Linked DNA regions of Homo sapiens. The protein of the gene in region 2 interacts with the protein of the main gene of each other region in a biochemical or structural test. Each region holds a gene or a part of one and is shown on either strand. Other genes may lie near its edges. The genes, in order: HDAC4, ZBTB16, HDAC5 and VDR.

Evidence for each region.
Region 1: the proteins of ZBTB16 (region 2) and HDAC4 form a complex in vitro, tested with the Homo sapiens proteins (2 studies listed by BioGRID).
Region 3: the proteins of ZBTB16 (region 2) and HDAC5 form a complex in vitro, tested with the Homo sapiens proteins (2 studies listed by BioGRID).
Region 4: the proteins of ZBTB16 (region 2) and VDR form a complex in vitro, tested with the Homo sapiens proteins (one study listed by BioGRID).

Annotation. Positions count from the first base shown.
Region 1 is NC_000002.12:239,391,010-239,398,029, reverse strand, and holds part of HDAC4 (histone deacetylase 4), read left to right. Parts: intron 1-7,020. UniProt on the Homo sapiens protein: Responsible for the deacetylation of lysine residues on the N-terminal part of the core histones (H2A, H2B, H3 and H4).
Region 2 is NC_000011.10:114,237,696-114,244,715, reverse strand, and holds part of ZBTB16 (zinc finger and BTB domain-containing protein 16), read right to left. Parts: intron 2,550-7,020; coding exon 2,379-2,549; intron 1-2,378. UniProt on the Homo sapiens protein: Acts as a transcriptional repressor. Transcriptional repression may be mediated through recruitment of histone deacetylases to target promoters. May play a role in myeloid maturation and in the development and/or maintenance of other differentiated tissues.
Region 3 is NC_000017.11:44,120,629-44,128,520, reverse strand, and holds the start of HDAC5 (histone deacetylase 5), read left to right. Parts: upstream 1-4,879; 5' UTR 4,880-5,017; exon of another isoform or gene 5,018-5,267; intron 5,268-7,892. UniProt on the Homo sapiens protein: Responsible for the deacetylation of lysine residues on the N-terminal part of the core histones (H2A, H2B, H3 and H4).
Region 4 is NC_000012.12:47,901,983-47,909,574, reverse strand, and holds the start of VDR (vitamin D3 receptor), read left to right. Parts: upstream 1-4,580; 5' UTR 4,581-4,620; exon of another isoform or gene 4,621-4,944; coding exon of another isoform or gene 4,945-5,011; intron 5,012-7,592.

The DNA.
Region 1 (7,020 bases), on a different chromosome or scaffold from region 2:
GGGCTGTGGAACCGAGACTGAGCCCCTGCCCTGTTGTTGGCAGCCCCCAGTCTGTCCTGGGGTAAGGAGTCGGAAAGGATGGATTTGGAGGGAGTGTTTGTTTTGATTTCAGGTGGTCAGCATATGCCCTGCCGTGTGGTGGGCTCTGGGTTTTTGGCCTTGACGTTAGAGGCGGGTACTGCACCTTCTGGTTCAGGTCAGATGAGGGGTGCCATGTCAAAAGTGATGCTACCTTTGAACAGACCTTAACTCATTCATAAGCGTTTCTGTGGGAACAAGTGTCACTAAGGTCAGTAAGTTCTCTTCATACGGTCAGTTTTCTTCTCTTGGGCTTCTGTGCGTGGGAAGAGTGGGACCTGTTTTGGGGTGGCATGAGGGCCATGGTGCCTGCAGCATTAAATGGCCATGTCCCCTTGCTGCAGCCTCACTGACAAACCTCCTACTCACTTCCTAGAAGGAGGGTCAGGGTCCTACATGTCCCCTTGCTGTGGCCTTGCTGACACACCTCCTACTCACTTCCTGGAAGGAAGGTCGGGGTCCTGCATAGATTGCCCCCACCGTGACTTCCTGTATCACTGTCGGGGGATGAGGATGTATCCTGGAGCAAGGAGATGATGCCACGAGCAGCTGTCACGTGCTCCCGTAGCTGACGCCAGATGAGCACCTGCTTGGGGCTCGTGCTGTTTCATGCACTCACCATGTAGGTGTCAGCACAGTCCTGCAGGTGGGCTCTACCTCTGGAGGAACTGGGGGTAGAATGAAATGGACCATGTGCCACCCCCTGCATCTCCAGTCCCAAAGGCCAGTTCCTCTCCGTGCCTCTGCTTCTAGGCTGGTGGTGACCTTGAAGCTGAAGTTCAGCTTGTCGAGGTGCTTGGGCGAACACAGCCTCTTAGAGAAGAGGACGATTTGGAATACCTTTCTAGTTCAGTGTCGTTAGACTTTCTAGTGCTGTGTTGACTGTTCTTGGCGCTGTTACAGGCGCGTTTCATAGGTCTGGGCAGTACTTCTGGCTTTCTCATGCTGTCTTATGTCACGTGTGGGACTGCAGAACTAGAAGACATCATGTTCTTCTCCTGCAAAGTCCCCAGGACGCCTGGAGGCAGGTGGGGGTGACGGAAGGGAGCTAATGCTCCAAGTCCACTTCAGCCGGAGCAGCTTTTAGTGTTTGTTGTTCGGTCTGTTGATTACCTTGGAAGATTTTATTGGAAGAAAGCATTTGAGGACCAAGTTAATCTACTCTTTCAATACCAACCCAGAAACCTTAAAGAAAATCTTGACAGATTTAATAGGATAAGAGTTTTTTAAAAAATCTCTTTGGCAAAAGACTCCGTCAGCCGGGCTAAGAGACGAGAGAGAAAATACATACCACATTATGCCTGTGTAAGCTTAACAGTCAATATATAAAGAGCTTTTACAGACCAATAAGGAGAGCATGAGATCACCATTGCAAGATGAGCAGAACGTATGAACATTGAATCATTGTGCCAGTGATGAAAGGTTAGCATTACTAATCAATTCAGTGTGAAGGAGATTCCCTTTATGCCTATCATATTGGCGAGTTTGATGATACCTGTTGCTGGTCATAATAATAATTTCTATTTTGTAAGGTTTTTGCAAAGTTTAAGTTAATGTATGGAAATTTCCTTGAATAGGGCCTGGCATGTAGTAAGCATGATATAAATGTTGGCTGTTATTTATTATCATTTGCTCTCTGGAGAGACCCATATGTATTATTATATAAAATATAATAGGGCTGGGCGAGGTACCTTATGCCTGTAATCCCAGAACTTTGGGAGGCCAAGGTGAGAGGATCACTTGAGCCCAGGAGTTCAAGACCAGCCTGGGCAACATAGTGAGACCCTCATCTCTACAAAAAAAAAAAAAAAATCAGGCATGACGTCGTGTGCCTGTAGTCCCCATTACTTGGGAGGCTGTGGCAGGAGAATCACGTGAGCCTGGAAAGTCAAGGTTGCAGTGAGGTGTGATTTTGCCACTGCACTTCAGCCTGAGTGACACAGCGAGACCCTGGGCTGTCCCCCCCAAAAAAGTTTATATATGTAATGTATAAACATAAAATAGTGATTACCGAATTGCTCTCTAGAAAAGTCTTAAGTGTCAAAATCTTAAATGCCATTCTCCTTGTCCCCACAGTTCTACATTTTGAAATCTATTCTAAGGAAAGAAGATAAGTGTGTAGATATCCAGACGTGTGTGGAGGTCGGGGCTGCATTATTTATAAAAGGAGTACTTGTTAAACCTGCTGGCATTTCTGCACTGTGGCATCCTCCATGTGTAGACAGGCAGAAGTGTGCAGTGTAAGAGGGAAAGGCGGGGTCTGGAGCAGTCCCCGGGCCACTCCTGGTTTTAAGTACATGGGTCTCTAAGGTAACCATCAGAGGTGAGGAGACGGGGTACACTTTTCTTTTATACATGGTGGTATTGTAGAGATTCTTTTGGTAAGCGTGTATTACTTTTTTACAGTAGTAATTTGAAAACATTTAGATATCTTCATTGGAAAGAAAAGTACTCTTTAAGTCCTTGGCAAGTTGATAAATATGCTTTGCAATAGAAGAATTTAGGGGCATTTGTTTTTCTAACTCACATGTAAGCTCTTCAAGGTGGGGACTGACCCTCGGGGTCTGAGCGGGCTCTGCTACAGCCCATCCTACAAACAGTCTCCCAGGTTTCCACCAGAAGCAGGTTTGTACCTCTCATTCCCTTGCTTGAAACCCTGGCATGACTTTCCTGTATTCTTAGGATCCTAAGGTCTCAGGGCCCTGGAAGGCCTGCCTGATCCTGGCCTCTGTTTTACCAGCCTCATCTGATAGCACTTGCTGTGTTTGTGGAGTTTCAGCTGCCACCTGCTTTACTTTCTAGCTCTCTCTAAGTCCCCTTTGACCTCGGGGCCTTTGCACACACTGTTCCCCTTCCTTGGAATGGCCTCCCTTTACCTTCCTCTTCTCCAGCCCCTCAGTTCATGCTCATCCTCTCATCCTTTGATCCCCTGTTAAACTTAGCCTAATAGCTTTTTTCCTCCTTTCTAACAGCATCCCATTGTGCAATTTCAGGAAGGAGCTCATTGTGACCTTAGTTGTTTAATGCCACCTTTTCTACTAGCTGGGGCTCTGTAGGATTGAGGGGCCCTGAGGGCCTCATGCCTGCTCTGTACCCTGTGCTTGGCAGTGTAGGTGCTCGAAGAATGAAAGAAAATGAATGAGTGAATGAATGAATGGATGAGTAGGTAGCCCAGTGAATGGCACAATGCGGGCCTTGGGTGGGAGAGCTGGGGTGAGGCCCCACCTCTGGCCTGGCCCCTCTGCGGGGTTCTTGCCAGTGCTCTGGAATTGCCTGTTTCCTGACACCCCCTGCCCCCATCTGGGAACTTCTTGGTCCTGATTTTGGAGATTACATGCTCCTAAGGAGATGTCATAAATGCAAGTGGAGGGAATTCTGTGATGCAGAAAGGAATGGGAGGGAGAAGGGCCTTCAACACAGCTGTCGAGTGGCAAATGCGACTGTTGTGCCAAGGCCAAGGCAGGTGTGTGCAGCTTGTTCTCCAGCCGCTTCGCCCAGGGCCCCGGCGTGTGAGGAGGCGAGTGGTGCTTTTATGAAGAAGTTTTTCTCTGCTTGTTTTAAATTAGAATTAATGACATTATTTAATCACTTCTTATTTAGCGTCATAATTTTAATATGATACATTAATATGTTTGTGTACATAAACATTTTGGAGTCTGCTCTGTTTAAAAATGTGAGTGTTGGGCTTTGTGAGTTTACTGTTGTTTATGAAGTACTCCGTCTGTGTGAGTCAAGTGCTTTTGCTGGATTGATGTTTAAGCTTGAAACAATAAATCAGTTCTTAGGACCTGAAAGTCTGAACCAGCATTCCAAGTGGGAGTATTGTTCAAGCGGTGATGGAATTGCATTTTCCCTTGGGAATGGCCCATCATCTGGTTTATGTGTTGCTATTTGCTGGAGCGGTTCTTTTTTAAACTGAGGAAGAGAAGTTTCTGTGGTATCTCCACTGGCCTCCCTGGTGGTGGGGTTGGGGGTGGAGGGGGGGTGGTCCTTGGGGGCCATGTTCCCTGAATATTTCTAATTGATTAGTTATTATTTTGCAAATACTCATTTTACACCCCAGCCCAAGTACTAGGTTTTACATGAGATGAGACTCAGTTGAACACATTCTCTGTGCCAGACGCAGTGGCCAGCCCCATGACCCCAGGCTTGATCAGGAAAACTGGCCTCTGCCCACAAGAGGCTTTGGTGTTGGTAGGGACAGAGGAGAAAAAGGAGCTAAACAGGCAGGTGCACACGGGTCACCATCCTGAGAACCAGGGCTGTGGCTGGAGGGCTTGCTTGGTAGGGAGAGCCGTGGTGCAGGAGCCAGGCCCAGATGAGGAGGAGGAAGGGGAGGCTGGGTGGGTGGGAATGGGGTGTGGTCCTTTTTAGCCAGAGCCAGAGTTTCGGGGCTGCATTGTGAAAAGGGCATTGTGGCCAGATGGTGGCCTGGTGACTGAGGTCTCTGAGGCCAGAGTGCGTGAGCCAGTGATGAGCCGGGCCAACTGGCAGGCTGCCTGGGTGGGGTGGAGGTGTGGTCTGCACAAAGGACTTCCTTGCGTTTTCATGTATGTGTAGTCTTCTTGCATTTAATGGAGAGTTTGCTTCTGTTCTTTCTATTTTGTGCACTGGTGCCTGGCTCCAGCTGGGTGATGGACCTGATCTCTCTTGTTCTAACTTTGTGGAGGCAGGCCCATTCAGATGCATCCCAAGGAGGCCTCCAGGTGGTCCATGGCGCGGCTAGGCCCTCCTTGGGGCACATGCTTGGTGGTGCTGTTGTGGGGACTTCTGCATGAAAAGCAAGGGCAGCTTCCAAAACAAGGGCAAGGTGAAGAAGGTGGCTCACACGCCGGGGGTCCCAGTCCTGTGGCTCTGAGACGGGCCGCATCCAGAAGGGAGGGGGTTCCTTCCTTCTAGCAGTGCTGGCGAGAGCTTCCTCTGTGCCTAGGTCCAGGATTCTGTAGAGTAGCTGTCAGGACTGAAGCCTGCCAGGAGTCTGTGTAGAAACCGTGCTGGAGGGGACCCGCTGGGGGACCCGAGCTGGCACCCCCAGTGCCACCGGTTTACACACCAGAATTCCGGGTCTGAGGCTGAGCCCAGCCTGGCCCATCTGCAGGGGCCTTGCTGGCTGGCACCGTGCCATGTAAGTCAAGTGGCAGAAAGTGGGCCCCCAGCAGGTCAGCAGAGCGTGGCCAAGGGCCCCTGAGCCTCAGTCCTCCCTGTGGCCTGGGGCTAATCCCAGCTGGCTATTGAGGACTTACCCACCCCCAGGACTCATGTCCGAGCCCCGTAAGCTCAGGGGTTAGAGTGTTCTAAGGAGGCTGACCCCCATTCCACCTCTGGGGGCTGTGGACAAGGAGGGGAAGATGGCCTGTGGGTCCACACAAGCGGGGTGTATCTTAATTAGTGATGCCAACTGTGCCTCCTTGCTTGCAGGATGTGGGTGGCCCTCTGACCTTTTGGACCTTTAAAGTGAGCCATAAAGAAAACCATTGGGAGGTTCTGGCATATTAAAACCCCCTCTACTATAAAATTTACATCAGATTTTGCACTGAAAAAATCCTCATAGGTGGTCACAGTCCCCATTCTTTGGAGAACACTTGTTTGCCAGCTCAAGGGCTCTGTGTTGGAATCCGCCCCTTGGCTCTCCAGGTCAGAAGGATGCATCAAAGGAGATGTCACTGGGGTGCCTGTGTCTTCTCGCCTTTCGAGTGCCTGCCCTGAAGCAGCTTGCTTTCCTTTGCCCCTGAGTGTGCAGCACAGCCCAGCGTAGCTCGGTTGCTGGCTGGGGCAGCAGCTGACCTGCAGAGCCGTTACGTGCATGCCCGCTGCCATCCGAGGGTAGCAGCCGGGCTGGGCCATCCCACCCCTGCCCGGCATGGTGGCCCGGGCAGGATGGGGCCTGGTGTGGGAGCATCCAACTCACCTCCCAAGCTGGTGGGGATGTTGACCTTTTGGGCTTCGGAGTTCACAACCAACCATGTGCAGTGCTTCCCGCGGTCCCTCCCTGAAGAAGAGTGTCTTTCCATGTCAGCGTGCCAGCTTCAGCACACGCGGGCTGCGTTCTGACGAAGTTCTGTTTTCAGAATTCTTCTGGTTAAGCGGAGGCCAGAGCTGAGGCACGTGGGAGCTGCGGAGGGCCTCTTCTCTTGTTTCACGTATCCTTCTCCTGGTTCCTCGGTGCTCTCGTGGGTGTGGGGTGAAGGGTCTGATTGGTGGATGTGCTCTCTCCTGCTCGTCACACTGCCAATGTGCCTGCAGTGGACAAGAGTGATTTGCAGTGATGTCCTGTGTTCCATGGCTCTGGGGTGTTGAGTGAGCATCGGTTGAGATCCCAGCTTCACTGTCATGACCCCATCACCTCAGTGAGTCCTTTGTCATCTGCTGAGTGAGTGTCTCTCCCGCAGAGACTCAGCTTTCCTCTTCCTCCTCCCCCGCTGGCTCTGAGGACACACAGCCCTCTCTGCTGGCAGGTCTTGGGAGGAATGAGGAGTAGGGTATGTCCCCTGCCCGGGGCCTGCTGCTGACCGGGCCTTGGATGCACCTGCAGGACTTTCTGAAGCTCCTGCACCTGCTCAGGGTGTCTCTGCAGCAGGTCGTGGTGTGGTGGACGTCTCCCCGAAGGACCTTAGTACAGTTTGAGAACAAGCTCTCGTCTGCCTTTGTCCTTGCAGGGACTGTGTCATAGTTTACAGAGATTAGACTCTTGAAAGCTCAGAAGCACCGTGATGCTTCCCACGGACACTGTCAGCCCCCAGGGCATGCTGCGCTTGTTAGGGACCTGAAGGGCCAGCGTCCCTACCCGGTATGCAGAGCCCGGCTCGTGATGGTGGCTCAGCTGCTATGGCATGTCCAGATTGCGCCTTGGCCACAGTGTGATTCGTATCGAGGCCGAGCCGAGGCCCCTGGCCCTGAGGATGACTCGAGCGGTCTGATGGACACTGTGCCACGGCTTTGCCG
Region 2 (7,020 bases):
GTTTAAATAGGAAATTCTTGAGTCTGCCCAGGGAAAAGAATAAAAAGAACTTAGAAGGAAAAACAAACAACAACAAAAAAAAAAGAAAGAAAAAGTCACCAACACACACGTATCCCCATCCCGATTTGGAAGCACGGTGTGCACCTGGCGTGAAATCTTCACCCTGAGAGCTGATTGTGTCAGTGTGGCCATAATGTACACAAAACTGGCTGCAGAACTCAAAATCCAATTTGTGGTATGTTGATTAACTCTGTAGCCTCTTTAATGAGCTTGACATTAAGTGCAGGACAAACGAGACTAATTAGAGCCCCCTCCAGCCTGCCCAGTGCACCTGTGACCCCGCCCCCCCCAATCTGTCCTTACTTGGTGCTTTCTCTGGCACTGGCCAAGCCCAGTGTCTGTCGTCCTCCCCACCCCAGCCCCATCCTGCTGGCTCCTCAGGCCCCTCCCTTCCAGCCCCTCCCTTCAGCACAGCTGAGAGTTTATTATATGATGAGCCGTGTGAATCAGGGATCCATCAATGCCAAGAGCACGGCTGGACTAACCTACCAAACACAGCTGCTGATGCTAAACACCCGGCCCCAGCAGCAAATGGGCCAAGAACAACGGAATATTAATGAGGCATTGTGTGTGGGGTGTGCACAGCCTGTATATGGCTTGTGTGCGCAGTGCCTCGCTGGTGTGAAAATTGATGGGTGTTTCTCTGTGTGTGCATAGGCAGCACACATGCTCCGTGTTTCCTAGAATAAGCAAGGGCTTCTCCCTAACTCTGGAAACAGCCCCTCCCCGTGGATCTGAGCCATGACTGACACAAGAGCATGTGACATTTTCATATCTGAGCTCTGAGAAGGTGGCATGGTCAGAGCAGGGCACATCCTGGGTGGATTTAGCAGGACTGAGATCATTCAAGTCACATGAAGCCAACTGATTGGACCCAGTGGCATGCTCAGAAGTGGCTGAAAGGTATCTAGCCATCTTTCATAAGACCGAATGAACCTGGGGAACTGTTGAGGGAGGCGTTCATAGGAAGGTGCATATAGCTGCAGGGGAAATGCTTACGCAATCGCTGTAGAGAAAGTCCTTGTCAACATCCCACTCTCCTGGGCCCTTTTTATTGAGCCCACCCCTCTGGGCCCTACCTCCGTCCTGTCCCAGAAATTTTAAGTAGTTCTGTGCAAATCTGGTGATGCTAAGACAATGTGCTCCCCTGAACAAAATGGCATCCAGAAGTGACAGCCAGGAAGGCTCCTTAATGAGGATACCTGCTGCTGGCTGGCCAGGCCAGCTCAGTCCATGAGAAGTAAAGCTCTTCCCTTATTTAGCAGAGCCTGCCACCCATGCAAGACCTGGTCTGCATACTCAATCTCTGAGCTGTGACAAGACTCTCAAAATGAGGAGAGGGCCTACTGTTCCTTTACGTGGCATGCAGAGGTTTTTACAAGTATACGCTCTGTTATATACCCAGATAGAGACCTGACCCCAACCCTCCCTACAAACACAGCACACAAAGGCAGACTCAGAAATGGGCATTCCTTTAACCAGGTAGTTTCAGCAGAGCCCCAGTTTTGTCATAGAGAAAATAAGGAATTTAAGCCATCCACTCCCCTGTTAGGGAAAACTGGGAGCTGCTGCAGGAAAGCAAATGCCTCTTGGCCATCAGGGACCAAGTGTCCCCATCCCTCAAGCCCTAGAGGCTGGTGGCAGGGAATGGCCAGCCCCTCAGCACCTGGCCCAGCCTCCTTACCTTGTACCCCCTCCCTTGTCCCATCACCTGGAACTGGCTGAGCAGTGATATTTCATTGCTCATCGTTTAAATGCCCTCCTTGTCTTCCCTAAACAGGGTTAAGGTCCAAGTACAGGCCTTTGTTACTGTGGGGAAAGTAGGATCACTGCTTCAACTTGCCCTCAGAAGCCCGAAGCTGACTTCAGAAATGTGTATGGATAGAGCGGCGGGGCATCAAGAGTGGTGGGAGGCAGGGCAGACAATGTTAAGAGACCCAGCAGGTCAGTTTTTCTCAAAATTCATTTTGGGTCTACCTACATGAGAATCCCTTGGGAATACATATTAATAATGCTGAATCTGGGACCCCACCCTGGACCCATGGAATAAAAGGTTCTGAGAGTGGGACCCAAGAGCCTGCCTTTTTAATGAGCATCCTGTGTTGAACACGGAAAGACTTTGAACCGACGGTCCACAGGAGGGGACTGGGAGAACTGTCCACATTTACCTGCACGACGGGCAGCCTCTGCACGTCCAAGCCTTGAGCAGAAGGACTGAAGGCTGACTCAGCCCACCACCTCCACTTTACGTCCTTGGAGGTAAATATAGACGCTGGCTCCCAGAGACCCAGATCCACCCATCAGCTGGACTGACCTACCTGTATGTGAGCGCAGGTGGCGTTTGAGAGCCGTGTGGCTGGGGAAGGTGCGGTTGCACTCACTGCAGATGTAGCTGCGCACGCCCGCGTGGACCTCCATGTGCTGCTGCAGTGCGCTCTGCGCCTGGAAGCGCTTCCCACACAGCAGACAGAAGACGGCCATGTCAGTGCCTGTGGGAGACAGGAGAGGGGGTGCCTCAGAAAGGTGGGAATACAAGGTGCATTCTTTACCCATCTGGAGTGAGAGCCAGTGTCGGGACTCACACCTCCAAATCCCCATGCTCAGGGGCAAATCCAGAGTGGGCCCAGGCTATGCAACACTGAGCACCCAGTATGTGGCCCCAGTGATGGGCAAAATCGACGTCGTTCCCGAGCTCTGGAAGCTAAAGCTAAAGGATAGACATTGATCAAATACATCGCAGCAGCAAGGGTAGTGGGCAACTGTGTCGGGTGGTATGTAAAAGGCGGCAAGGTACTAAGACAGCATATACCAGATGGACTTCACAGAGTACAGGGCAAAAAGTGGGGGAGGCAAGGTAGACCCTGCGAGAAAAAACAATAACAAAGATACTATGGGCCAGCCATTGTTCTAACATAACTAATATAAATCCAAAACTCAAAAAGCTAGCCTCTGTTATCCTCATCCCTTAGACAAGGAGACTGAGGCACAGAGAGATTAAGTACTTTGGCCAAAATCCCACAGAGCAGTGGTCCCCAACATTTTTGGCACAAGGGACTGGTTTCATGGAAGGCAATTTTTCCACGTATGGTTGGGGGATGGCTTTGGGATGATTCAAGCACATTACATTTATCATTAGACTCTCATAAGGAGTGTGCAGCCTGGATCCCTTGAATGCACAGTTCCCAATAGGGTTCATGCTCCTGTGAGAATCTAATGTCGCCACTAATATGACAGGAGGCGGAGCTCAGTTTCACTCGCTCGCCTCCTGCTGTGCAGCCCAGCTCCTCACAGACCATGGCCCGGGGGTTGGGGACTCCTGCCATAGAGTTCGTAAGTGGCAGGGCTGGGGTTCACACTCACACACCCTAGATTTTAATGCTTTCCCAAGACTAGCTACAGATCCTGTTTTGTTTTTTTTTTTTAACTACTTCTCCACTCACTAAAGCATGAATCTTAGGTCCATTCACTCAACAAGTATTATTTGATGCCTTCTACAAGCAAGGCTGTCTTTTTGGCACTGGGGATATAACCAAGGAAGAGCATGCAAAGTCCCTGCTCTCATGACCGACGTTACCCAGAACACCAGGTGAATGGCGGAATCCGGAAGATGGAATAGTGTCTGTGAACACTCTGGGCCAGGAGGAAACATGGCCGGTGGGAGGATCAGACAGAGGAATGGTGCAGTGCAGCTGGGGAAGAAGAGGAGGCTAAAGGGAAAGGCAAGGGCCAGGCCATGCAGGGTCTTGCAAACCACGTCAAGAGATTTAGTTCCATCCTAAACCCGATGGGCAACTGTCAAAGGATTGAAAGCTAGCGAGTGATGTGAGATTTTCATTTAATTCTAACTGGCTGTTCATCCCCAAAGTACCCCACACATACAGGCTGCCATTTTCTGTTTGTTACCAATCCCTTTCTGACACTGCTCTGGAGCCATGGCCGAAATTTCCAGCTGCAGCACCACAGGAGGAAGTATCTGACCTTGTGTCTGAGTCCTAACTGGCAGCTCAGTGCCCACCCTTTTGGGCTCTGTTTTCCTGAGCACAGGAGCTCCCCGGCAGGCCCATCTGTGTGTCTCTGTGCTGGTGCCTGGGCAATATCACCTGCACTTGGCCCCACACCGCTGTCCCCTGTGTGGGAAGGCACAAGCAGGAAACGTAAGTAGGCCTAGCATCTGTCAGTCCAGTCCAGAGTGGGTGGGGGGAGGGGGTAAAGCTTTGGCTGCTGGAAGCCATGGGCTGCTCAGCATGGAATCGGGAAGTGTCTGGTGGAAGGTAGGGGGAAGAGAAGGGATGGCACGAAGAACCTCCCTGCCTTCCTGGCCATCAATGGAGATAGCAAGTGAGAGGTCTGGTCCTCACCACCTCCGTCCCACTCATGGCTGGGTTAGGATGGACTAGTAGGCAGGCAAGGCCCACCTCTCACTGTCCCCCACACTTCTGTGCCCCTCACACCCACCCTGATATCCCTTCCCTTTGCAGACACTGAAGTCTAAGCACCTGGAGCCACGCCCCATCTCACCAGCAGTCAGGAAGGCTGAGCAGGGAAGGAGAAAAACAGCCAGCACAGGATTTTGCTCCTGGCCAACAAAAAGCAGGAAGGAAGGGGAGCGAATCTAGGCGTTATGCTAGGTACCTTATCTATGTTGTCAGTTCATTTAAAACTTGCAATCCTACAAGGCAGGCATTCTTATCCCCCTTTTTACCAGTGTAAAAGAGAGATTAAATAACTTGCCTAAGATCACACAGAAAGAGGCAGAGTTGGGATCTGAAAATATCTCGGTTTGTCTTTCAGAAACCACGGGGCTGGACTCAATGCTACCTCTGGAGCTGACTGCCCGCCTGTCTGGGCTTACCCTGGAAGAGGCCCAGTAAGGATGGTACAGAGGACTCCTGCCTCTAGTACAGCTCCAGCAATGGCTAGAGAACCCCTGGCCAGGAGTGGGCAGTAGCTGGGGCTGGGTCACAAGGCATAGCTCTCTGAGGCCTTCCAATCCCACTGGGAGCCACCAAGGTCTCTCAGAAATGCTGAGTAGTCTACTCAGCTTCACTTGCTGGAGGGAGACATAATGAGAGATGTATCTTTCTGGACAGAAGCAATGCCAAGAGTTGACAGTGAGTCTTCAATGTCCCTCCCTGCTTGGCCGACGTACACAGGAGGACAGTGCATCTGCAATGCGTTCTGTGCCCGGTGGCCCCCACTCCTTCAACTTGAGAGCCCCCAGCATCTACTCCCTCTCTGCCCTTAACCCCCACCCCACAGAGAGCCCAAATTAAGCCAGGTGTTCAAACAGCTACCTTAAATCAGTAGGGTTGAGTAGGCTTTGGAGGCCAGCCATGCCCTTTAAGAGCCAAGGCTTCTCCTTATGCATCCTCTGAGATCCCCGGCATGGAAGGAACCTGGGCAGAGGGAACATGAATGGCATTCCCAATAGGACATCTCAGCCTATACAGCCAGACCCACAGGTGCTCTGAGTGTCAATACACCCAGCAAGGCAGACTGCAGCACTCTGCCCCCTTGGCCTTTCCAAGGCCCCTCGATACTGCCCCACTATGCTGTCCCTACTTCTCAGGGTGGCCTGAACCCACTTCATGTCCATTCAGCCAACTCACTGAGCCACTACCAAGTACAGGCACTGTGCTAGGTGACCAGGGGCAGGCTAAGGCTGAGCAGAGAAACTGGGTCCCAGACTAGTGGGAGATGCTGAGTTAACAACCACCCAGAGGGTAAGGCAGGGCGACTCCAAGAGCTCCTGAGATTTTGAGTTAGGCTTTTAAAAGTTGAGTATCTGAGAAGCAAAGGACAAGAAGTTGGGACACATGTGCCAGGCTAAGGAGAGAGACACCACTGGCAAATGTCAGAGCAGATGGGGCCAAGGTCAGGCCCTGGGGATGGAGACAAGCTGGGAGGGTGATGGGAGTCAGATCAGAGGGCTGCATATGCCAGGCAGGACAGGTTGGACTTTATTCTACAGGCAATGCAGTGCCATGAAAGGACCGAGGGTTGCTATGATCCTAATGTCTGGGTCCCCCTCTGATTCCTTTTTTGAAATCCTAACCCCTAAGGTGATGGTATTAGGAAGTGGGGCCTGGGAGAGATAATTAGGTAATTAAAATGGAATGAGTGTCCTTGTAAAAGAGGGCCCAGAGAGCTAGCTAGCCCCTTCCACCACGTGAGGACACCGAGAAATCAGCAGTCTGCAACCAGGAGGAGGACCCTCACCAGAACCTGAACATGCTGGCACCCCAATCACAGACTTCCCAGCCTCCAGAGCTGTGAGAAATGCATGTCTGCTGTGTATAAGCCACCCAGTCCGTGGCAGTTTGTTATAGCAGCCTGACTTGACTAAGACGAGTGGTGCTAGCACGATCTGACCTGTGTTTGAAGCCAGTGACTCTGGGCACACATGGGGACCAACAGCAGCAGCAAGCGGTTAGAAGCAGCGAGAGGGCTGATGGGCCACTGGAGGAGGGTAGGGACCAGACCAGGGCAGAGGCTGCCAGGGCAAAGGGAGAGAGAAAATCCTAGAAAGGTGGGACAGCAAGGGAGGAGTGGCACGCAAAAAATCCCAGATGGCCAGTTCCACAACTGGCCAACAGGCTGGAAGTCATATGGTCACCAGCTGGAAAGGAAACACTATGATGTCCCTACAGTGGTCTCTCTCCCCTTCCTGGGACATTCCACAAGGTGCAGGGGTGCTCCTTGGTCACGTATCCACCAACCAAGGCTCCCAGGGGAAGAAAGGGGAGCCTCTGAGACTCAGCATCCACTTTCCCCATTTTTCTGCTTAGAAACTAACAGCTATGATGATAGAAAAGTATTTTTAAAAAAATGGAAAAGTGGGGGAGATGTGGATGAGACACAAGAAAAGCTATTGGTGCATGCGAGTTAAAAATCTAGAGACTAGATGTGAGTTATTAAACAATTTGCTGGCGTTTCAGCCTAGCTGATTGTTCGCATGTA
Region 3 (7,892 bases), on a different chromosome or scaffold from region 2:
CAGGGATCAGATTACGTAGAAACTTTGGGTGTTTCTTTTTTTTTTTTTCCCCCAAATATGAGGAAAGGACCAGCTGCAGTAAAATCCCCTGAAGTGGCCAGGAGTGGTGGCTCACTCCTGTAATCCCAGCATTTTGAGAGGCTGAGATGGGCGGATCACTTGAGCCCAGGAGTATAAGACTAGCCTAGGCCGGGCACAGTGGCTCATGCCTGTAATCCCAGCACTTTGGGAGGCCGAGGCGGGTGGATCATGAGGTCAAGAGATCGAGACCATCCTGGCCAACATGGTGAAACCCCGTCTCTACCAAAGAAATACAAAAATTAGCTGGGTGTGGTGGCACGCTCCTGTAGTCCCAGCTACTCGGGAGGCTGAGGCAGGAGAATTGCTTGAACCCGGGAGGCAGAGGTTGCAATGAGCCGAGATCGCACCACTGCACTCCAGCCTGGGGAATAGAGCGAGACAAAAAAAAAAAAAAAAAGGCTGGGTGCGGTGGCTCACGCCTGTAATCCCAGCACTTTGGGAGGCTGAGGTGGGCAGATCATGGGGTCAGGAGATCAAGACCATCCTGGCTAAGATGGTGAAACCCCGTCTCTACTAAAAATACAAAAAAAATTAGCCGGGTGTGGGGGCGGGCGCCTGTAGTCCCAGCTACTCGGGAGACTGAGGCAGGAGAATGGCATGAACCCGGGAGGTGGAGCTTGCAGTGAGCTGCGATTACACCACTGCACTCCAGCCTAAGCGACAGAGCAACTCTGTCTCAAAAAAAAAAAAAAAAAAAAAAAAAAAGACTAGCCTTAGCGGCCGAGCACAGTGGCTCATGCCTGTAATCCCAGCACTTTGGGAGGCTGAGGCAGGTGGATCACGAGGTCAGGAGTTTGAGACCAAACTGAGCAACATGGTGAAACCCTGTCTCTACTGAAAATACAGAAATTAGCCGGGCGTGTTGGCCTGCACCTGTAATCCCAGCTACTCTGGAGGCTGAGGCAGGAGAATCGCTTGAACCCTGGAGGCAGAAGTTGCAGTGAGCCGCGGTCATGCCACTGCACTCCAGCCTGTGTGACAGAATGAGACTGCGTCTCAAAAAAAAAAAAAAAAAAAAAAAAGACTAGCCTGGGCAACACAGGGAAACCCCATCTCTACAAAAAATACAAAAATTAGCTGAGTGTGGTGACATGCACCTATGGTCCCAGCTACTTGGAGGCTGAGGCAGGACGATCGCTGGAGCCTGGGAAATCGAGGCTGCAGTGAGCTGTGATGGCGCCACTGCACTCCAGCCTTGGTGACATGGCGAGACCCTGCAAAAAAAAAAAAAAAATTAGCTGGATGTAGTGGCACGCACCTGTAGTGCTAGCTACTTGGTAGGCTGAGTTGGGAGGATCACTTGAGCCCAGGAGTTCAAGGTTATAGTGAGCTATGACTGTGCCACTGCACTGTAGCCTGGGAGATACAATGACTCTGTCTCAAAATAAATAAATAAGTAAGACAAAGTAAAGACAAACATTCTGGTATTTATTCTTCTAGGCTTTTTTTGTTTCAGTTTTCTTTTTTTTTTTTTTTAGACTGAGTCTCTCTCTGTCACCAGGCTGGAGTGCAGTGGTGTGATCTCAGCTCACTGCAACCTCCACCTCCTGGGTTCAAGCGATTCTCCTGCCTCAGCCTCCCGAGTAGCTGGGACTACAAGGCATGTGCCACCACGCCCAGCTAATTTTTTGTATTTTTAGTACAGATGGGGTTTCACCCTATTAGCCAGGGTGGTCTCGATCTCCTGACCTTGTGATCCGCCCGCCTCGGCCTCCCAAAGTGTTGGGATTACAGGCATGAGCCACCGCGCCCAGTCCTCCTTTTTTTTTTTTTTTTTAGAGATGGGGTCTCCATATGTAGCCCAGGCTGGGCTTGAACTCCTGAGGTCAATGAATCCTCCCTTTTCAGCCTCCCAAGTAGGTAGGACTACAGGTGTGTGCCACCATTCCACCATGTCTGGTTAGGCTTTTTTTTTTTTTGAGACAGGATCTCACTTTGTCACCCAGGCTGGGTGCAGTGGTGTGTTCTTAGTTAGCTCACCTCTCCGGCTCAAGCTATCCTCTCACCTCAGCCCCCCAGCGTGAGCACAGGTCTGGCCCTTGGCCAGGCTTTTTGATATACACATATACTCAGGCATATGAATCTAGTTTGTTGTTTTTATAATAATGGAACAATTCAGTAATACTTGTTTGAGTCCTGATTTTCAAGAAAACAATATATCACGGGCATCTTTTCAGGTCGGTATAGACCTATAAAATTTTTTTTCTTCTTTTTTATTTTTTATTTATTTATTTATTTTTTGAGACGGAGTCTGGCTCTGTCGCCCAGGCTGGAGTGCAGTGGTGCTATCGCAGCTCACTGCAACCTCTGCCTCCCAGGTTCACGCCATTCTCCTGCCTCAGCCTCCCGAGTAGCTGGGACTACAGGGGTCCGCCACCACGCCCGGCTAATTTTTTTTGTATTTTTAGTAGAGACGGGGTTTCACCATGTTAGCCAGGATGGTCTCGATCTCCTGACCTTGTGATCCGCCCACCTCGACCTCCCAAAGTGCTGGGATTACAGGCGTGAGCCACCGCGCCCAGCCTATTTTTATTTTTTTTTTTGAGACGGAATCTCGCTCTGTCACCCGCCCAGGCTGGAGTGCAATAGCCCGATCTCGGCTCGCTGCAACCTCCGCCTCTCGGTTTCAAGTGATTGTTTCGTCTCAGCCTCCTGAGAAGCTGGGATTACAGAAGTGCACCACCACGCCCGCCTAATTTTTGAATTTTTAGTAAAGACGGGGTTTCACCATTTTGGTCAGGCTCGTCTCGAACTCCAGACCTCGTGATCCGCCCGCCTCGGCCTCCCAAAGTGCTGGGATTACAGGCATGAGCCACTGCGCCCGGCTATTTTTTTATTTTTTTTGAGACGGAGTCTCACACTGTTGCCCAGGCTGGAGTGCAGTGGCGTGATCTCGGCTCACTGCAACCTCTGCCTCCAGGGTTCACGCCATTCTCCTGCCTCAGCCTCCCGAGTAGCTGGGACTACAGGCGCCCGCCACTACACCCGGCTAATTTTTTTTTGTATTTTTAGTAGAGAGGGTTTCGCCGTGTTAGCCTGGATGGTCTCGATCTCCTGACCTTGTGATCAGCCCGCCTCGCCCTCCCAAAGTGCTGGGATTACAGGCGTGAGCCACCGCGCCTGGCCTCTTCTTCTTCTTTTGTTTTTGTTTTTTGTTTTTTTGAGACGGAGTCTCGCTTTGTTCCCCAAGCTGGAGTGCAGTGGCGCGATCTCTGCTCACTGCAACCTCCGCCTCCCGGGTTCACTCCATTCTCCTGCCTCAGCCTCCCAAGTAGCTGGGACTACAGGCGCCCACCACCACGCCCGGCTAATTTTTTGTATTTTTAGTAGAGACGGGTTTCACTGTGTTAGCCAGGGTGGTCTCGACATCCTGACCTCGTGATCCACCAGCCTCGACCTCCCAAAGTGCTGGGATTACGGGCGTGAGCCACCATGCCCGGCCCACGCCCGGCCTCTTTTTTAAAATACAGACAGTGTCTCGCCATGTTACCCAGGCTGGTCTTGAACTGGGCTCAAGCAATCCTCCCGCCTCGGCCTCCAAAGTGCTAGGATTGATGACAGGCAAGAGCCAATGCACCTGGCCCCTTTAAAACTTTTTTTTTTGAGGCAGAGTTTCACTCTTGTTGCCCAGGCTGGAGTGCAATGGCACGATCTTGGCTCACTGCAACCTCCGCCTCTCAGGTTCAAGGGATTCTACTGCCTCAGCCTCCTGAGTAGGTGGGATTACAGGCGCCTGCCACCACGCCCGGCTAATTTTTTTGTATTTTTAGTAGAGACGGGGTTTTACCATAATGGCCAGGCTGGTCTCAAACTCTTGACCTCAGGTTATCCGCCTGCCTCCGCCTCCCAAAGTGCGGGGATTACAGGCGTGAGCCACCATGCCCGGTCCCCTATAAAACTTTTAATGTCTGGATAATATTTTACTGAATGAATGTCTCCTGCTTTGCTTGCCAATTCCCTATCGATGGATATTTAGGTTGTTTTCAACTTTTCACATCATTACAAACAATCTCATGTTCATTTTTTAACATAACAACGTTTATTTATTTGGAATACATTTTTGTTAGTGGAATTGCTGGGTCATTGACAAATTGTCTAGGTCTAATTAAACATGTTCATACTGTGTACCAAGAGGAGATGTAGCGTGGATGGCACCAAAGTCAGGGAAGTCTTTCCGGCTCCTGGTCTGCTGGTCTGCCCTTTTGAAGGCCTTGGAGTGTTACAGCCATACCCTGGCCTTTCCCAGGCTTTTCTTTCCCTGGCACGGATGCAGTGTGTGCGGTCAGAGCTGGCGAGTTCGAGACTTGTCCGAACCATCCACCCGCAGCCAGGCCCCGCTGCAGAGGCTGCGGTGGCCCTCCCAGCCCCTGGGAATCTATCCCCAGGTCCCCTCCCCGACCGCGGGAGGGCGTGTTAGGGGAGCAGCTTAGGCAAGCGACGATTGCACCATCCACGTTTTGAAAAGAAAGTCCGGGGAGCGCAAGGAGGAAACTTTTACAATCCAAAGGTTGAGCCCCAGCATCCATACTCGGCCCCTGCAGCGATCCTTCCACTCCTGCTCGCTGGGTTCCGATCCCTTCCCTTCCACCCCGTCTCGGCCGAACCCTGTGCTGGGCACTGGCCCTTTAAGGAGCTGTCACGATGGCGTCGCTGGCCCCGCCCGGCGGGGAGGGCCGAGAGGCAGGGGAGGGGTTGGTGGTGGCTGCGGGCAAGGGGAAGGCGGGGGGGGCTGGGGGGGGGGTCTGGGTCTATTTTTAGCTCCGGGTCGGGTCACGTGACGGGAGTGACGTCTCCGAATGTTGTTGTTGGTGGCGGCGGCGAGCGGAGCCGGAGGAGCCGCCGCAAAGATGGAGGAGCCGTCGAGGAGGTGCTGCCGCCGCTGCCGCCGCCGCTGCTGCCGCCGCCGCCCGCGAAGCCGGAGCTCGAGCCGCAGCGGGTGAGCGCGCCGCCCCGGCCCAGATCCCATCTTCCCCGGACCCCGGGACGCGAGGCGGCGCCCCCTCCTCCTGCTGTCTCTGTCCGCGGGCTCCCAGCGCGCGCGCCGCGCTCCGCGCCCCCCTTCCTTCCTCCCGGCCCTGGGAGCCAGCCGGCGCCCCCCGGGAGCATCGGCAGCCCGTGAGCGGGACATCGGGGTTGCTGCGCGCGCCCCTCCCTGCCCCTCCCAGACAGGGGCGCCTTCCCTACAGGTAAGGGAGGGGCCCGCCTTCTCGCGCCCTGCGCCCCCAAATGGCTCGGAGACCGGCCGGGGTTGTCTGATTTGCCCCTTCCCTGGCGGCGCATGTTGCGTTGCAGAGCCATTTGAGCCCTGCACCCGGATTCTGTGCAGACCCCTCTTCGCTGGACACCCCTTTCTTGGTACTCTGAGGTGAGGGGTGCTGTCCACCCAGAGCGCTTCTCCCCATAGCTACGAACGCATCCTTGATTTTATGTCCTTGACTTCCGTGCATGAGGAGGGGGACTGCGGAGTCCACCTTACTTCTCTCTCCCATTATTCTCACCCCGTCTCCTGTGAGGCGTTACTGCGTTTGTTGCCACCCTCTTCTCCTGTCTGACACCTTGGAGCCAGGATGCGAGAGCTAGGAGATGAAATGGAGCTCCCCCCCAACCCCTTCTTGTCTTGGGTGGATGCCCCCCATTTTTCATCCTGGATCTGTATCTCATGGAAGCGGGGGCACTACCAGTGCCTTATTAACTTGGGGGGAGTCAGCTTCTCCACCCCACCCTTCCCTGGGGCCCTGGGGAAGATGAGAACTGGCTGGGTGTAAGTAATTAATCTGGGAGCTTGGTGGGGGCTGTTGAAGTGGGGAGGTTGGGTGCTTCCTTTGGGAGAGGAGATGACCACTTGATACCCCTGGCTGATACCCCTTCTGAAATGAGGTGTGTCCCTAAAGAGGAAAGGTAACAGCTGCAGTTGCTTTTAGGAGGGTGCAAAAGGGACCCATCACTCAGTCAGTGACCACCATGCTTTTGGGATCTGGGATTAGATTTGGAGCTTGGGGAGGTGGTGGTGATTGGTTTCAGTGTCCAACTGGGAGGGGAGGATGGAGCCAGATTATGGGAACAAAAGGAGGTGGGGGGGAGGGTGAGATCCAGGAGTCTTGGTCAGAGGGACCCCTAGCCAGATTGCCTTGCAGGATTGCAGTCTGGGTCTGGGTCCTGCCTTTGGCTTCCTCTTAGTTTCAGAGGATGTAGGCAGGCAGGCATGGTCTTCAGTCTCCCCAGTCCTAGGCACCCTGAGCCTATGCTGGCTGTTGAGATGCTGGGCTGGGCTGGGCTGGGCTAGGCTGGCTGGGCTGGATGGTGGATGAGCCATGTTGGGGGCTGCCTGCTTCTTCATTCCAGTCTTCCCTCCTTCCTCTCCCTCCCTAAACACAAAGCTTGGGGAGATCTTGGTTTGTCTCCTTCCTCTTTTCTTGACTCCTCTCTTTGCCCTCTCTTCACTTGAACTTGGATCTGGGCTTTCTTGACAAAGCAGTAGGGGTCTCTCTGAGTTAGAGAAATGGGCCCCCAGTATCTCCACTCTGTCCTGGGAATGTGGGCATGCCAGAGACCAGAGAGACAGATCTCAAGTGTGGGTTACTTGGGGGCAAGGATGGAGGAAATGTTAGTTCTGTGCCAGCCTCCCCTTCTTTTCCAATATATCCTCCTACTTTGGCTGGATCATGTAATTTGGAGGGGGGCAGCAGTTTCACATGCCCCACCCACCCCAAGTAGCTGCAGAGACAAAGGTTTGCTTTGCCTTCCGTAGGGGTGGCATCTTAATTGTGTGTTTAGAAATGGGGCCTGGGAATGTTGGGCGGGGGTCATTTGTGTTCCCGCATAGTGGGGGAGGGGGCATCAGCTATAGGAGCTGGGGGTAGTGCAGTCGGTGCTGAAGTACCAGCTGCTCTTTAATAATTAATTCTTCCTACTCACATCCCTTTGAGGAGGGATGTCTGGAACACAGCATTAGGCTCAGCCAGCCTGCTAGAGGACGCACTCCTGTTGGTGGCAGTAGGGGGGGGAAGGGGGAGACAGCAAGGGGGGGTGGTTCTTGGCATTTTTGGAGCACTGTAGCTTGCTCATGAATGAAAACCTGATGTAGCCCGTGAGGGGGCCTATTGTAGCCGACTTTAGCTAATTAAACTTTCTCTGCCTTTCTTCTTCCCTATCCCACCTCACCCCAGGCCCAGCCGCAGCCCTTTCTTGAATGGGGACCCTGCCTGGTAGTGCTGGGAAGAGGGTATCATTCTGCCTGAGGTTTTAGGGCAAACAGACCCCGTCTTCTGCCCTCTGCCTCCGCCTCCTCCCTTCCTCCCCTCTCACCACCCCCCTCTCTTTTTTTTTTTTTTTTTTTTTCTAGAAATAGCAGCCTCCTCCATCTGGCTTGTGCAGATGCCTGGAGCTGCGTCTGAGCAGACAAACAGAAATGGGCCGATTGCAAAAATGAATTTGTCAGCCTGGTGCCTTTTTTCCTTCCCTGTCACCCTCCCCCTTTCCCTGGTTTGGGGCCTGGACATCCAAGTCAGCCACCCTTCATGGCTCTGATCCTTCTGGGCTTCTGTTGGCCTAGCTTGGGGGAGGCACTAGGCAACAGAAGCTCTCAGAGGCTGAGGAAAGTGGTAGGCTGTGGCCATGGTCAGGAGGGGTCAAGATAAATTCCTAGTGCCTTTGACCTTTGGGTGGGATGTCTTGGCTTGTAACTTTTTTTTTTTTTTTGAGATGGAGATTCACTCTTATTGCCCAGGCGGGAGTGCGATGACACAATCTTGGCTCACCGCACCTCTGTCTCCAGGGTTCGAGTGATTCTCCTGCCTCAGCCTCCCGAGTAG
Region 4 (7,592 bases), on a different chromosome or scaffold from region 2:
GGTCTCGCAAATGTATTTCTGTGAATCTCATGTTCCAGATTCTAAATGAGGGGGTCCTATGGTGAGAGGGACTTGTTCTGTCATTCAGAAAGGCAAGATTCCATCAACTCCCTGGATGGAGTCTTCTGTCAGTTGGCTACTCAAACAATAAAGTCCGCCTAGCCCATGATCTAGGGCAGGATTTTTTTTTTTTTTTTTTTTTGAGACAGGGTCTCACTCTGCCTCCCAGGCCTCAAGCATAGTGGCATGATCATAGCTCACTGCAGCCTTGACCTCCTAGGCTCAAGCGATCCTCCCACTTCAGCCTCTCAAGCAGCTTGGACTACAAGCGCACACCACAATGCCTGGATAATTTTTAAATTTTTTGTAGAGATAGGGTCTCACTATGTTGTCCAGGCTGGTCTCAAACTCCTGGCCTCAAAGTAATCCTTCCACCTCAACTTCCTAAAGTACTGGGATTACAGGCCTGAGCCACTGTGTAGGGTAGGATTTTTAATACTGTATTTTGGGTCACAACCCATTAATGGGCTGTGAAATAAATTTGGTGGATCCCAAAAGGAAAGGAAGGAAGGAAAGAAGGAAGGAAAAGAAAGGAAAGGAAGGAAGGAAGGAAGGGAAAAGCAAGGAAAGAAAGAAAGGAAGGAAGGCAGGAAGGAAGGAAGAAAGAAAGAGAGAAAGGAAGAAAAAGGAATGAAAGAGGGAAGGAGGGAGGGAGGAAGGAAGGAAAAGAGGATAGAGAAAATAATAGAAAACATTGTAGAACATCTTTTGTATCAGGAACTTATATATATTCCTGAGTAAACTAGGTCACAGTAAAAACTTATTTCTTATTATGGGTTGCAGTTAAAATTTTGAAAAATACTGTCCTGGGAAGACCCCTTGGTTTGCTTTCATTGCTACAGCTTCTTACATTTATTCATTCTATTTTTACCATCTGGAACATAAATAAGGAGAGTCATCCCTGATCCTTTTTGTCTTAACTTGGGTTAGGAAATATAAATGAATTAATCTTTCTGAACTTAACGTGTGTTTTTTAAAAAATCTCTAAAACAAGGGAACAAACTGAAAAGATGGCCTGGTCCCTTCTGTCTTTCTAACTCCACGCTCATGTCTCTCAGAATGTTCTCTGGGTGTTTACTGAAGAGAGGCTTCTCTTCAGTCCTACCGTGCTCATAACCATAAAATATTTAAGGGGGGAAAATGGCCCTAAAAAAGGGAAAAACAAACAGTCAGATGGGAGTGTTCCAGAGAGAGCTCAAAGGGCACATTTTTACCTGCAGAGCAGCCTTTAGACAGCTCAAAAAACCTCTGTCCATGGGGACAGGGTCTCTGGGAGACTCACAGGGACAAAGTGACCCACTCTAGCTCTGACACCACAGCAAGAAGTGCAGAGAGCATCAGCCAGCCTCGAGGACAGTGGCCAGGCTGCAGAAAAAGGAAGCCCAGAGATGAGGACAGGCTGCAGTCCTGTGGCCTGACTGTAGCCACAACTGCCCAGGCCATCCCCAGGTGCCTGGAGCCTGGCAGAGAGGTCAAGAGACCAGGCCCTGCCTTTCTTTGGACTCTGTGGAATGAAATGCACAGGAATGAAATGAATGAAACGAAATCCTCAGCCTAGTACCTCTGGAATCTTTCCATCAAAGTCAGATGCACCGGGAAGGGCTCTTTTGTTTCTATATAGATTTTTGAGTCTATAGCACTATAGCAGAGTATCTAGCACACCACCAGACTTGGCTAATATTAACCAAGCAAGTGCTTACGAGATATTCCCTGATGTAATTTGGCAGAGATGAGTACTGACAAAAAACAATCTGTACATCCCAATAAAGACCACTACCCATCCCAGGGATAAGTGAGAATATGAGAAATGTTAACTTCAGGGAAAAGAAAAATTAATGTCTTCTGCAGAGGTTCTGGTACCTGGTTTATGGAGAAGTCAAGATAGGGGAATTTAAAACTATTAACTCTGTAGTGCAGGAATGGTGCTTGTCATCGAGGCATCAAGAGAACACGGTGTGGGACAGCAACCTCCCTTTCCAGTTGTGTACCTGGCTAGGGAGAAGTAGGGTCCAGAGACAATTAGGGATTACAACAGAACACAGGAGAAGTGAATCTCATATGATGTTGCTTTTCTACTTTCACAAAATAACCTTCCTTCTAAGAATAAAACAGGCAAAAAAAAATCTATCTTTGTTCAATGTAAATACAAGATGGTTCATTAGCAGGTGCCAAACCATGCAATATAGAAAATGCATGCGCTACAAAGACCAGAGAATTGACAGTTCCTTTCCTGGAGATGTTGGAAAAGCCTGATGGAATAGGCAGGACCTGAAAGAGGAGAGGGTCTGGAGAGGTGGATGAGAGAGAACAGTTCAGGTATTGGGGGAATATGGGAAGAACATGGTTACAGACAAGGTGACGGGGCTGATGACGGCATGTGCTGGGGACCGTGATGACATCTATAATCTTGCCCATCTGCCAAACGCAGAACCTCTGAGTTCTTCAACTCTGTGAAAAGTGCATGCATGGAAATTTTTTTTTTGTTTTTTAGAGGCAGCATGAAACAGTGGGATGTGCAGAGAGAAGATCTGGGTCCAGTAGCTCTGACACTCCTCAGCTGTAGAAACCTTGACAACTCTGCACATCAGTTGTACAATGGAACGGTATTTTTTACTCTTCATGTCTGAAAAGGCTATGATAAAGATCAAGTAAGATATTCCAAAGAATTTTTAAATTATAAAGCAGTTTACACATGTGAATTACAAGTACCTCTCCTCCAACAAAGGCTGTGAAAAAAGACTAACTCTCAGTTACTACGGAATACTTAGTACGCATCTTCCACCATCTTTTGATAAGGTTTATTTGCAAGATGTCAGGCCAGTCAAGCACCACAAAAGTGACTTCTGAGTGTTCAACCTCTTTCAGAGGCTCATGGGACTTGCAGAGAATGTCCCAAGGTATTGGTGGTTGGAAATTTCCTCTTATGCTTTTCTTCCCACAAGAATCACCGCTAGCTTTCCCACGATGCTTTGGGCAAGGGGATCCTTCCTATTACTTTCATTACAGGTAGAGAATCCATCCATCAGACTGGCAGGACCTCTAAAGGGGCACTTCATCTGTTTCTCAGAATAAATGGTCCATTCCCAAGTTCAATCAAACGCTATGCCTCTCTTCTGTCTTTTGTTTAAGTCTTCCCAGAAAGTTGCCATGATACCTCCATAATGAACTGTTGCAGTGCTTAACAAACTTCACTGTTGGAAGGTTCTTCCTTCTATTTAATCTCAGTCTATTTCTTTTAACCCTATTATTGAGTTGTGAGGGGCTGGTTATGATGTAGTCCAGCATAGCTGTCTCAGAAATGGTTCAGAGACCATTGCACCAGCAGATTTGCTGGGCTCTAGCACTAGTCCTTCATTGATTAGCTGAGTCATGTTGGGCATATCACTTAAACTTTCTATGCCTCAATTTCCCACCCTTTCACCTTGTCCCTCTGAGCCATGGTTTCCTCCTCTGTAAGAGGCGAATAGCAATATCTTCCCTGGCTAAAGGAGGTCATCGACTGCTGGATGATTTTGTGAGCATTTCTATTCCAGAAGATTATGTTGTAATTACTATTTATTTATACATTCTCCCACTGCACAGTGAGTTCTAAGAAGAGGGAACCCCATCTTTTTCACCTGTCCTCTAGCAGATAGAGCGGTGCCTATCACACAGTCAAGGGAAGCAGAGAATAACTTTAAGCCAAAATTTCCTGTGGTGAGTTTTCCGCAGCCATCCACAATTCCAGGTCTCAGGAGGTAGTCTTTATCTTTTCCCCTCACGCCGATGCCACGGGGCGGGGGGGGAAGGCGGAACTCGGGACCAGGGACCAGGGAAGCTGAGACTCAGCTCCCTTGGGTGAGATTCGCGACAGGCCGGGAACGTGGTCAGCCGCGGTCGCTGCCAAGGTGATATCGGGTGGGAGCAATGACGCAACTCCGGTTTCCACTTCGGCCCCCCGGGATATTTTACCCTAATCTGTGGGATCAGGCTGAGCTTCCTGGCGTTCTGCAGCAGTAACAGGTTGGCGAGCGGAGCCCGGGATTTCCCATTCGTGCGGAGCTAGCCGCCGGTGCCAGTCGGCAGGCGCCCCCCAGCGTCCCGCGGACGACGAAGTCCTGGCCTGGTCAGCCCAGGTGGGGGTGACGCACCTGGCTCAGGCGTCCGCAGCAGGCTGGGTAGAACCACGGCAGGAAGGGTGGGGGGCTGCATCCCCGATTAACACAGGCTGAAGCGGGTATCCGCACCTATAATCATCGACAACTCTGTCCCACAGAGGGCAGAAGCGTGCCTTGCCCTATGGACGACGGTCGATGAAAATTTCACGAGTTAGAGTATCTAAGGCTACAGCGTGGCCTATAGGGTGGTTGATTCCAAGTCAAGATGGTTGCAGCGCCAACGGAGCTCCTGGCAAGAGAGGACTGGACCTGTGGGCGGGGCGGAGGGGCGGGGCGGGGCCGGGGCGGGGCCTGACCGAGAGGCGGGGCCAGGTGCTGGGCTGTCTCTGCTTGTCAAAAGGCGGCAGCGGAGCCGTGTGCGCCGGGAGCGCGGAACAGCTTGTCCACCCGCCGGCCGGACCAGGTGCGAACCCGGGAGCAGCGGGAAAGGGGGTCTCAGGATAGGGACTCGGGGTCGGGGCGTCTGGGATACCGGGGCCTGAGCGCCCGGCTGCGAGCATTAGAGTCTAAGTCTCAGCGGTAAACTTGGCTACTGAGGTCCGGGCTGTCGTGCCATGAGGCTGGGACACTAAGGGGCACTGAGGTTTGAGAAAGCTGAAGTTCGTGCCAGGCTGGCGAGGGGAGCAGCGACATCCTCGGCGCTTAGGAGAAATGCTCCGCTAACACAGTGCTTAGCACTTGGGCAACAAGAAGTATTTGTTTCCTTCTTCTGTCGGGGCGCCTTGGCATGGAGTGGAGGAATAAGAAAAGGAGCGATTGGCTGTCGATGGTGCTCAGAACTGCTGGAGTGGAGGGTGTGTAACCTTATTTATTGTCTTACAGGGCCCAGGTATGGTCACCTGTGATGGTGGAGTTGGGTCTTTTAAGTAATTTTTTTTTTTTTTTTTTTTTTTTTACTTTTCTTTGAACTACCAATGAGTTTAGACCTAATTGGCCCTATTTTTTTTCAGGACAGCCTGTCAATAGATGTTCAGAGGAACTCAGGGGCAAGCATTTAAATGAGGAAGGGGCTCAAGGAGTAGTTTCTGTTTGAAAAGTGAGGTGCCCTGGATCTGTGGGTGGTGGTGAGGAAGATTCAGAAGTATCTAGGAGGGAACAGCCTGTGGTCTCCAGGGCCAGTGTACAACTGCCCCTCCTTCTCTTCACCCAGGGACCAGAGTCTGAGACCTAGCCTGGGCTGGGGGAGCCTTAGGTCTCCAAGCCCAGACCCTTCTCACAGTTCCTCCTCCTTCTCCTCCTCCTCCTCCTCCTCCTCTTGTTCCTCCTCCTCCTCTATGCGTGCGGTGAGTGAGTCAGCCTCCTGTCTGGGCTCAGTTGCAGCCAAAGGGGCCAGAGCCCAGGCAAGCAGTTGGGCAGGCATTTTCTGAGCATTGCAGAAGCTCTCCTGGGCAGAGTTCAGCTCTGCTCCAGCTCCCTGCTGGAAGGTGGTCTTCCTCATGGGCAGGGGCTCAGATACCCAACACAGCAGTGCTTATGGAATGGCTATGAGATGATTCTAGCAGGAGGTGACCGTGAAGGGATAGTGGCTTTATGATAAATCTACATCTCATCTTTCTCCTGGGATAAGGAGGTGCATCCCAGCACTGCAGGCTTTTCCAGCCCTTCCTTCCATTTCTGCCTAGTGGTCTCATTAGCAGCCCATCTCTGCTAGTGAAGGGGGTGAGCAAAAGAAATTAGGAAAGTCTGGGGCCAGAGAAGTCATGGTGTTGGCAAAGAAGGCTTTAACTCAGGCTAGGGAGTGAGGGTGATTTGCTGAGGTAGAAATGGGTTATCTGAACATTGGAGCCTCAATTCTATGGACTAAGAGTGTTGTGTGTTGAGAGACCTGCCGTCCCTTCCCTGTCCAAGTGCTGGAGGGAACTGTGAGTCTTTCTGAAACAGTCTCAGGGCTGGCATGCAGCCAGACCAGAAGGTAGTAAGACTGCACATTTCTCCCTGGCTTTTGTTTTGGGTGCTAGAGATCGTTGAACAGAAGTAGCCCTCCCTGCAGAGTCCGTGGCCCCCACTCAGCAGCCTCTCTGGACCTATTTGAGAAGAGTCCTGGGAGGCCAATCCAGCTGTGGGGCTGACTCAAACTGCAAAAAGCTGGGGAATTCACAGTCTATGCTCTGGCTGGGTCCCATGGCTTTGGGTTTGGCTGGTCTTGATCAGCTGTGACTTGGACCCTTACCAAGCTAAAGGAGGGACTAGAAAATGGGGTAAGAAAGGAGGGGAAAAAATGAGAGTTAGAAAGCCTTCCCAACCCTTTACTCCTCTTCGGCAGAGGCCATCAGACTTTGTTTGTATAAACATTATGGAAGGTCGGGTGCTGTTTGGGGTGCCCTGATAGTTTGTGTTTATGGTTTCTCAGTATTCTTCCCCTATTTGACCTCAAAACTGATCTCTTTTGTAACTAAGCCCCAGAGGAAGCTCCGAGAGGACCTCCTGAACCCCTACACTCTACCCCCAGAACAGATAGCAGGTGTCCAAAGCCCAGGCTGTGAATGGAGAAAGGCCTGGGACCGAGTGGGCTACATCAGGTGGCTACTACATCAGGTGGTTATCTAAGACACGAAAGGGAGTTCCCATTGTTTCATTCCTTACCCCACATCCTAAGGAGGCACCGCTGTCCTGGCTGGAATAGGCATCTGGAACCTCTGCTAGAAACTCGCTGTTGCCTGTGCAGCAGTCAGGTCCTAGGGGCCAGAGAGCCAGAGACGGGAGGACCACCTAGATGACATTTGGTGTGTTGCTGAATAAAGAATTACAGGGCTCCAGCTTCCATTTGTCCCTGCTGCAATTCTGTTTTGGATGCAGGTAGAGGGAAATAAGGAATTGACCAGATTTGATTAAGAGCCTCTTGTGTGCCCAGCATGACTCCAGGCCCTCTGAGGGATAGCAGGAAGCAGAACCCACCAGACCAGGCCCCTGACTCCAAGACAGTTTGAGCCCCAGGGTGGGCAGCAGTTCTCAGGCTCTCCCTCCACTATTGTCCAGTTCTGAGAGGATCCAGCTGGGCTGAAGCCAGCCTGGCTGCCACTCTGGGCCACCAAGGCCTTGCTTGTCATTTTGCTTCCCTCTGATTTGTCCCTAACCTTTTCCTGTGTCAGTGCCCTCCTAGATATGCTAGAAAGAGTGCCTGTGTAATGTATCTTGCAAACTGGGATACTTCTGAGAGTGAAAGGGGATGCCATGCATGGTTATACCAGGACAATGGACATAAACCCAAACTTTCCAGGGAAAAATGGAATATTAATCACCCTAGTGATCATCACTCCAAACTCAGCAGAGGTCACAGCAGTGATGAGGGGATGATAAGGTTGGGGGAGGCTTAATGCTCAAGGGAAAACAGGGGTAGCTTAATTCTGAGGACAGCCCCCGACACCCTAGCCTGCT